Regions from separate parts of the Homo sapiens genome. Here region 2 is linked to region 1. The links come from fine-mapping of genetic effects on gene expression. Tissue or cell type: cerebellar hemisphere. Region 1 holds a variant in brackets; the other region holds the start of a gene. All regions are shown on one strand. Distances are between the middles of the regions.

Evidence for each region. PIP is the estimated chance that this variant, and not a neighbour inherited with it, causes the effect.
Region 2: it holds the start of ATP8B4, and the variant in region 1 is fine-mapped to the expression of ATP8B4 in cerebellar hemisphere (GTEx, PIP above 0.99). The same link has a PIP of 0.9 or more in cerebellum.

The regions. Positions count from the first base shown.
Region 1 is chr15:50,174,769-50,180,036 of GRCh38, reverse strand. It overlaps a transcript of ATP8B4 not described here. Among named protein-coding and RNA genes, the nearest start is that of SLC27A2, 4.8 kb to the left of the region's middle. The variant T/G (reference allele first, on the strand shown) is at 3,275.
Region 2 is chr15:50,116,558-50,121,557 of GRCh38, reverse strand. It overlaps ATP8B4 (ATPase phospholipid transporting 8B4 (putative)), which reads left to right and starts at 2,325. Exons shown (of 28, transcript NM_024837.4): 1 at 2,325-2,435. RefSeq lists an enhancer at 4,608-5,000.

The DNA.
Region 1 (5,268 bases):
GTATTATTAAAAAGTGGGGTTAGGGAGAGTAAATTTGGGGAAGTAATTTTCAAATGTCTATAATATATACCTTGGGAGTCCCAGTGATTCCAGCTTTGAGCCTGGGATCCAGCTCTTGCTTTATCACGAGGTTAATAGATGTCTTAGTCTGTTTGGGCTGCTATAACAAAATACTGTAAGCTGGGTAGTTTATAAACAACAGAAATTTATTTCTCAGACTTCTGGAGGCAAGTCTAAGATCAAGGTGCCAGCAGATGTGGTGTTTGGTGAAGGGCTACTTTCTCACAGATGGTGCCTTCTCACTGTGTACTGTTTGGTAGAAGGGACAAATTACCTCTCTGGGGCCTGTTTTATGAGGGCACTAATCCCATTCATGAGGGCTCTGCCCTATGATCAAATTACTCCCCAAAGGCTCTACCTCCTAATACCATCACATTGAGGGTTAGGATTTCAATATATGAATTTTGTAGGGGACATGAACATTAAAACCACAGCAATAGTCTTCCTGGAAATATTGCTGCCATCTTATATCTCCACTGCTCAATTATCTTTAGTGGTTCCCCATTGCTTCCTATTGTCTTCCACCAATGACATCTATAGACAGTTGTACTTGTACAGCATACTAGAACATACCTGGCCTAGAGTTGACCAGATGCCCTGGCTTCTGCCTGACTCCTTTGAAAGGTGATCGATAGCTTAGCACGTTGGCTGCCCATTCTTGGTACATCTCTTGGGAACCTCTGGTCTATAAAATGAAATTTAAACTTTATTTTCTGGCTCTTCTGAATCTCACTCAAGCTTTCACTACACTCAATTGACAAATATTTATTGAGTTTCTGCTATGAACCAAACATTATTAGGTATTAAATATTTTAAAATGGACCAAAACTTAATTCTAACTGTTCCTTTTCAAGCGCACTTTGTTTTTAGCAAGTCTGGTCTGCACACTCCTAAAAATGCCCTGCACCTTCCTCTTTCTACTGGCTTGTTCTTACCACTTTCCACCCCTGACCATCCTAACCCTGTAAATCTCAACTCTCCTTTAGGGCAGTAGTTGTTTGATTCCTGAATTTCTTAGTCCCGTGTTATATTTCGAAACCAAGTTAGGGACTCAAAATAAGTAACGACTTCTTAATTTTTCTAGTAAGAACAACCCCCTCCCCCATCACAGTATATTTGTTATTTTATAGAAGAATGACATTTTTGGCACTAAAAAAGTATACCTGAACTGTACACTTAAAAATGGTTAAAATAGTTAATTTTTATGTTATGCATATTTTACCACAATTTTAAAGACAGTAACAATAAACATATAGCCCTTTCCAAGAAAAGACGAAGACAATGTTACACCAACACATAAAAAGTACAGAAATTATCCAAGTGTGGGGGCATGCACCTGTAATTCCAGCTACTCGGGAGACTGAGGCAGGAGGATCACTTGAGGCCAGGAGTTCAAGACTGGACTGGGCAACACAGTGAGACCCCATCTCATATGAAAAACAAAACAAAATAATCTTACAAATTCTCACAAACAGATAAAAATAAAAACATTAAAAATATTTTTGAATGTAGAAAACTGCAACTTTTGTCTGGGTTTTTATACCATATAGAAATTGTTTTTATACAAGTTTGTCTATTCAGTAACATAAATTCCACAGGGAAATATGAAATAGAGCCAGATCTTGGACTTTGATGTAATTTAGGATTTTGTCAGCACTGAGATCTCAGACATGGAGATTCTCCGTCCCCATAGGCTTAGTTAAGCCTCCTCATTCCACTTCTCCCATTCTCTGACATTACTGAGCCTATTCATTTCCTCTATCAAGATTTCGGTCCCTTCCTGGCCAGTCACTTCAACGTGGCCTCCTAGACCCCTCTTTTCCTTAAACTTTCTATCCAGGTATAGATGACCTCAAATGCCCACTGTCTTCTGTCCTATTCTAGGTATTGCAGGAGAAGTTTAGGGGCAAGACAGGATTACTGGGTGTGCATACTGACACCTTCTAGCCTTGGTCAGGACGTTCATCCCTATCATCTATCTCTGCTATTTGAGAGAAGGCTTCCTATTGGCAGTCCCAGACCTTCCCTACCCCCTTCAAAGTTTCCAATCCCAATCTCAAATGTTCTTTTAAAGCAGGTGGCGTCCCTTCCTACTTTATGGAGATGAAGTAGTTCACTATTTCTCAAACTTTACAAGTCTGAGAATCACCTGGGGAACATGCTAAAATATAGTTTATTAAGCCCCATCTCCAAAATTTCTGATTCAAAGAATTCACATCTCTAAGAAGTTACCAGGTATTGCTGACACTGCTAGTCCAGGGACTATACTTTGAGAACTACTGATTTAGTCCATTGGCTTCCAAACTACTCGGTAGAGCCCTAGTGGCTGAGAAGTTACTGAGGAGAGTTCATTGCATAGAGTGGGAAAGGGGCTCTGGGAGGATCCTACCCTAGCTCCAATCAAAACAGCTCATATACTTGTTTTACACTTCCATGTAGAGTTCATGTGAAAAAAAGTATTCCCAAACATTTTCCTTTAAATCTTCCAGCCCATGCTGATCCAGCCCTTGTACTGAACTTATAAACCCATCGCATAGGTGGGCTTTTGATTGTTTCTTACCTGTTAGTTTTGCCTTCGTAACTAGAATTCAATTTCCTGGAATGAAGTAATAGAAAAGATTGTGAGACTTGAAGCCAGAAGACCTGATTTTGAGTCTTTATCTGTCATGCATTGGCTGAGTAGCTTTGAGAAGTGTACTGAGCTCTCACAGTGACTTGTGTTAATTTTGTAGAATTTGAGGCACCTAATGCACAGGGCCATTCTTGACAAAAAAGTATAGATTATGAAGCTTGCAATTTTTGTGACATTACATACTTGGTACAAATAGAAATTTTGTGTGACTGACTCATTCAGTGGTTTGTGGGAAGAATAATCTCTGACTGTTGTTGCCATAAGTTAATCACATTTCTTGAAATGTGGGTGCCTGTCATCCTATTGACTGTCTAGCATGGTACCATTTGAGTATAGGCATACAGGATGTGCAGGTATTCAGCCAACAAAATGGCAAGGGTTTGATGGAGGTGGTATGTGATAAGATTGACCCTCTTTTTGGAGAATGAAAAAAAGGTGAGACTGAGAACAACTGATTATTGATATTAGACATGACAGAGCAGGAAACCCTTGCATTGGCATCCCAGTTGTGCTTGCTACACAGTCAGGACAATTTATAATTTGAGAAAAAGATGTTTGCCCTCTTTAGTTCTGACCAGAATG[T/G]CTTTGATTAGGTGTTGAATTCTAACTCAGGGAAAACTCCTGATGAAATCATCATTGTTTCTAGTGCTAATATGTGTGCTAATTCTCCAGATTTGGTTTGTATTTTTTCAACAGCTTTCTCTCTCTTCTTTCAATATCCCACTGCAACACACATACTCTCCATCCCAGTCACAATGTACTCTTTTTTGGATTTTATTATTTATTTTGTTTTTTATTTTTTAATTTAATTTAAAAAATATTTTATTTTTCCATAAGTTATTGGGGTACAGGTGGTATCTGGTTACATGAGCAAGTTCTTTAATGGTGATTTGTGAGATTTTGGTGCACCCATGACCTGAGCAGTATACACTGCACCAGATTTGTAGTCTTTTATCCCTTGCCCTCCTTCTACTCTTCCCAAGTCCCCAAAGTCCATTGTATTATTCTTATGCCTTTGCATCCTCACAGCTTAGCTCCCACATGTCAGTGAGAACATACGATGTTTGGCTTTCCAATTCTGAGTTGCATCACTTAGAATAATAGTCTCTAATCTCATTCAGGTCACTGCAAATGCTGTTAATTCATTCCTTTTTATGGTTGTGTAGTATTCCATTGTGTGTGTATATATACACAATGTTTATATATAGTGTATATATATATGCTGTGCAGTATATATATATACACACTATATATATACTCTGTGGTATATATATATATATACTCTGCGGTATATATATACACTCTCTCTATACTATGATATATATATACTGCGATACATATGTACACACTATATATATCACAGTATCTTTAACCACTCATTGATTGATGGGCATTTGGCTTGGTTCCATGATTTTGCAATTGTAAATTGTGCTGCTATAAACATGCGTGTGCAAGTATCTTTTTTGAGTAATGACTTCTTTTCCTTTGGGTAGATACCCAGCAGTGGGATTGCTGGATCAAATCGTAGTTCTACTTTTAGTTCTTTAAGGGATCGCCACACTGTTTTCCATAGTGGCTGTACTAGTTTACATTCCCACTAGCAGTGTAGAAGAGTTTCTTGTTTACCACATCCATGCCAACATCTACGGTTTTTTGATTTTTTAATTATGGCCATTCTTGCAGGAGTGAGGTGGTATCACATTGAAGTTTTGATTTGTATTTCCTTGATCATTAGTGATGTTGAGCATTTTTTAATATGCTTGTTGACCATTTGTATGTCTTCCTTTGAGAATTGTCTATTCATGTCCTTAGCCCCCTTGTCGATAGGATTGTTTGTTGTTTTCTTACTGATTAGATTCGTTGGTTAGTTTCTTCGTTTCTTACTGATTAGATTTGTTAGTTTCTTACTGGTTAGAGTTCGTTGTAGATTCTGGATATTAGTCCTTTGTCAGATGTATAGGTTGTAAAGATTTTCTCCCACTCTATGGATTGTCTATTTACTCTGCTGTTCCTTTTGCTTTGCAAAAGCTCTTTAGTTTAATCAGATCCCAGCTATTTATCTTTGTTTTTATTGCATTTGGTTTTGGGTTTTTGTTCATGAAATCCTTGCATAAGCCAATGTCTAGAGGGTTTTTCCAATGTTATGTTCTAGAATTTTTATAGTTTCAGGACTTAGGTTTAAGTCCTTAATCCATCTAGAGTTGATTTTTGCATAAGGTGAGAGATGAGGATCCAGTTTCATTCTTCTACATGTGGCTAGCCAATTGTCACAGGCACCATTTGTTGAAAAGGGTATCCTTTCCCCACTTTATGTTTTTGTTTGCTTTGTCAAAGATGAGTTGGCTGTAAATATTTGGGTTTATTTCTGGGTTATCTATTCTGTTCCATGAATCTATGTGCCTATTTTTATACCAGTACCATGCTGTTTTGGTGACTATAGCCTTATAGTATTGTTTGAAATCAGGTAGTGTGATGCCTCCAGATTTGTTCTTTTTGTTTAATCTTGCTTTGGCTATGTGGGCTCTTTTTTGGTTCCATATAAATTTTAGAATTGTTTTTTTTCTAATTCTGTGAAG
Region 2 (5,000 bases), 58 kb after region 1:
TTTCTACTCCTTATGAAGAAAAAGTAGAAATTTTTGAAAAAGTTGTGCTAGGTATACATAACATGACATTTATCATTTTAACTACCTTTAAGTGTACAGTTCAGTGGCTTTAAGTACATTCACAGTGTTGTATAACTATCACCATTATCCATCTCCAGGACTTTTCCATCATCCCAATCTGAAACCCTGTACCCATTAAACAATACCTTCCCATACTCTCTTCCTGCAGCCCTTGGTAGCCTCTACTCTTTCTGTCTCTGTGAATTCACCTATTCTTCTTGCTGAGCCTTGCTGTTATCATTATTCATTCGACATTATTCATTATTCATGAGTGCTTATTATGGACACCAGGAGTTCAACAGTAAACAAAAGTCCCTGCTCTCAAGGAGCTTTTATTTTAGTGGGAGGGAGACAATAAACAGCGAGCACATTTAAAATATTTTTTAAAAATGAGATTATCTTATACACAATTCTTCTGCAACTTGATCTTTTCACTTGACAGTACATCTTGGACATCTTTTTCTATGTCAGTCTGAAGAGGCCTATCTCTTATTTATAATAGCTAAATTTATTGAGTCTCTACTTTGCTCCAGGCACTGTTTTAGTTGCAACAATCCTATGAGGTAAGTTCTATAATGATCATCTTTTTACAGATGGCCCAGATAAGTGTAGGAGCTTGCATAGTCACCTGGCCAGTCACTGGTGGAGACAGAACTAAACTCAGATGACCTGATTCCTTACTCCAATTCTACCCTCTTTTGAATGGCTACATAGTACTCTTTTGTATCAATATACCTTAACTTATTTAGGCAGTCTCTTATATGTAAGCCATTTTTAGGTGTTTTTTTGTTGTTGCTATCATAGTGCTATAATTAACATATTTAGAGATATGTTTGCACGTGTGTGTGGTTTTCTATAAGGTAAATTCCTAAGAAATAAAAACACATACACATTTCAATACTTGATAGGCACTACTATACTCAGTTTCCTTTAAAAAATATTTTACCAATTTATATTCCCACTAACAGTATAGGAAAAGGAAAAGGCCCTGATTTCCTTATATCTTCTTTAACAAAGGGAATTACCAAACTTATATTTGCCCCATATGATAGGTTTAAAAATGGTATAGAGGTGATACTTAAAAATGTTTTTCACTTAAAAGTGTTTTTTATTTTAAATATTTTAAAGAGATGATTGCTTCCTGCTCTAAGCTGTTCTTGGTCCTCTTTTATCATGTAAGAAAGAAAGCCATCTCTCTTATTTCCAGAAATCTGTAGTTTCTTGTTACTGTGGAACCTTGGTAGGAAAAGGCCCTTGTTTCTGTGAAAACCTGAGGGCCCAGCGTGAGGATGTTCCAGGAGAGTGGAGTTGATGGTGCGCAGGGGATTAGCTTGCTCTGGTTATAGAGACATGATTAAAATCTATTTGATTTCAGTACTTAACTGGCAAATCTGATGCAACTTCTGGAAAATTCCTAGATGGCTTTAGGCATATTTAAAAGAAGCCATATTTTTCCTTTTAAAAATAGATATGCACCAAAATATTTTATTTTCATCTAATCCCGCTTTAACAACCAGAATCCCCTTAAAAGCAATTCCAAACTAAAAGATGTAAATCCATTTCCTATGTGCATTTGTTCTTTGGTACCATCAGGGTTAATGTTTGCATCCTCTGTGCTGAAATTAAGGATGTTGGGAAAGAAGTGTCATTGCTTTGCCTACTAAATGTCACTTGAGTATGCTTAGCTTTCATCCATAAGAGAGCTGAACTTCCCCTGTAAAAAAAAAAAAAAAAAAAAAAAAAAAGTGACAAAAACCCACTGCTGATTCTTTCATCTCTGCAAAAGCAGGTGGGAACTGCAAACAGATTTGCTTATCTTCCTCAGTCAAGGGCTGGTAAAAGTTTGGTAAGTAGGCCTGGTAGCCGGTGTCCCCTTCCATTGTTCATTTTCATCCTCCTGAATTCTTGATTCCCACAGAGGAAGCCATCCTCAGAAGCCAGCCTCTTGGGAGTTTCCTTTTGTTTCCCCAAGATTAACCAGTTCTGTCCTGTCAGCAGGAGCAGGCAACTAGGGGAGGAGAGGCTCTTCAGGGCTTTCAGCATTTTTCCAAGGAGTGCTTTTCTCCCTCAATTCCTCACTGACAGTGAAGCTGCTTTCTTGTAAGGTCTTCCTCTTCTTCTGATGAGATGCTGATTCTGATTGCCATCTAGCAGCTTCCGGTGGTGGTAAGTGGTCAAGAGTGTTTTTCCAGGAGTTGATCTCAGGTTTTTGAGAATGCCCCCTAGAGACCCAGTTTGTTTTCTGTATCATCCCTCAAGCTTTCAGAGTAGCCTTGCTTTTCTCCTTGGCATGGTCACGGAATGGATACCTGTTTGATCTTCCTGCACTGCTGAGAAATCTTCCTTTTGGGGGAGAGGATTAAGTCTGGGTTGAGGTGAGTAGATGGGTAGCATTCAATGGTTAGTGAGATGAAGTGGAAATTTAGCTGTGGGCTGGTTGGAACGATCTGTTTCTTTTCTCCAGATCCCTATTTTGTTTTGCTGTTTTCATCTTGGTGACTAAGGTTTCACAAATATTCTTTATTATTCCCCTTTTGCTAAAAAATAAATTTGGGGGAGTTAGTTGGAAATGGGAGATGTGACATTTTCTTTTTTGTTGTTTGAAATGTCTATTTTTTACTCTGTTAGCATGCCTATTAAATGACCAATGATAGTAGCATAAAGGTACATTTCTTCTTGGTTTGTAGGTCTTTGTCACTTCCTTTGGTAGTAGTTGGTTTTATTTTTTTCACGGGGTTTGTATACAGTGCACCTATTCAATATATTGTTTATGGTCAATTTATGCTTTAGACATGAACAGTTTGCACTGAGCTATCCCTCTGAGGTTTGAGGGTTATGTTTTTAGTGCTAAAATTTGTCTGAACAGAAAAAGGTATCCTTCTAGTTGTTTTGTTTATAGGCAAGAGAGTGTCTCAGGTCCCTGGTTAACAATTAGCTGTTTTGAAGAAAAGAAAACTGGTGAAAAACATTAATTGGAAGCTGAAGTCTTGTTAGAAAGTAAATGAGGAAACACAGGTTTTCTTGTGGGATTACCAACACCTGTGCCCATGAAGTATCCCCTTTTACTCAGCTGTTGCTCCATGCTGGCCTTTACTACAAAATGTAAACTCAGAGTGATTTCAGTTTTGATTTTTTTAAATGTATTTTTTATTTTTTATGTGATATGTAATAACTGCACATATTTATGGGGTACATGTGATATTTTGGTATATGCATACGATGTGTAATTAGCATATATATCACCTCAAACATTTACCATTTCTTTGTGTTGGGAACATTCCAAATCTGCTAGCTATTTTGAGATACAATAAATTATCATTATCTATATCGTTTATTTTATCGTTTATATCTATATCGTTTATTATAAATAAAAAATAAATTATCATTATCTATTGTCATACTACCGTGTTATCAAATACTAGAACCTGTTCCTTCTATCTGACTGTATGTTTGTACCCATTAACCAGCCTACCTTCACCCCCTTCTTCCTCTTCCCCTTCCTAACCTCTGGTAACCACCATTCTCCCTCTCTACCTTCATGAGATCAACTTTTTTAGCTCCCACATATGACAGAGGATATGTGATATTTGTCTTTCTGTGCCTGGCTTATTTTGCTTAACATAATATCCTCCAGTTCCATCCATGTTGCTGCAAATGATAGAGTTTTATTCTTTTTCATGGCTGAATAATATTCCATTGTATATAAATACCACATTTAAAAATTTTATTCCTCAAGAAGAAATATTATTGCTTCCATATCTTGGCTATTGTGAATAGTGCTGCAATAAACAGGGGAGTACAGATATCTCTTCAAGGTACTTATTTCCTTTCTTTTGGATGTATTCCCAGAAGTGGGATTGCTGGATCATATGGTGGATCTGTTTTCACTTTTTTTGAGAAACCACAGAGTGATTTATTTTAACCTATATTGTGCCTTTATATTGTCTCATCATGCAGAAATATTTAAAAATGAGGGAACAAATGATTTTTTTTGTGCCCCTGGAGGATTTTTTTGTGGGTGGGAGAATTTTATTTTTTTCATATGTGGCATATTGAATATTTTCATTTAGTAGGAAAAGAGTTAACTAACCATCTAAAAGTAAATTGGAAATTGTAGCTGTCATTGAAATTAAACTTAATGTATGTTTGGCCAGATGCAGTGGCTCATGCCTGTAATCCCAGCACTTTGGGAGGCTGAGGCAAGTGGATTACTTGAGGTCAGGAGTTCGAGACTACCCTGGCCAACATGATGAAACGCCCTCTCTACTAAAAATACAAAAATTTACCAGGCATGGTGGTGGGCTCCTGTAATCTCAACTACTCAGGAGGCTGAGGCAGGAGAATCGCCTGAACCGTGTGGTGGAGGTTGCAGTGAGCCGAGATCAGGCCACTACACTCCAGCCTGGGTGACAGAGCGAGACTCTGTCTCCACAAAAAAATAAATAAATAAAAAATAAAAAACAAAACTTAATGTGTGTAATCTAAATTCTTGTATAGCATGAGTAAGAATTAGAAACAAGTATTTATTTTTAGAATCTCTCATGAAAAGATATTAAAAAATAGTAACCTCCTAGCAACATTATATATTTCAAATATTAATAAATTCTAATTAAATATTAAATATTATTGATCATTATGTTTTTGGAAACATGTTCCTTCCTTACTTTAAAGCTACCTTGCTTTTCTCTCTCCTTTTATTTACTCAACTGGAGTTTGAGTACCTACCCAGTGCCGGGCACTGTACTAGATGCCTAGGGGAAAAGGTCACAGAGGGAGGGCCACAGCATTTCATTTCAATGGATCCTTCACTGACCTTTCTTTTGAAGTTGAGCGCCCTCTAGAGCTCTGTCCTTGTTCCTCGTCCTCTGTCCTTTCCTCACCTCTCTTTGTTCTTGTCCTTTCTGGGTGAGGTCATTCATTCCCCCTTGACTTCACTCCTT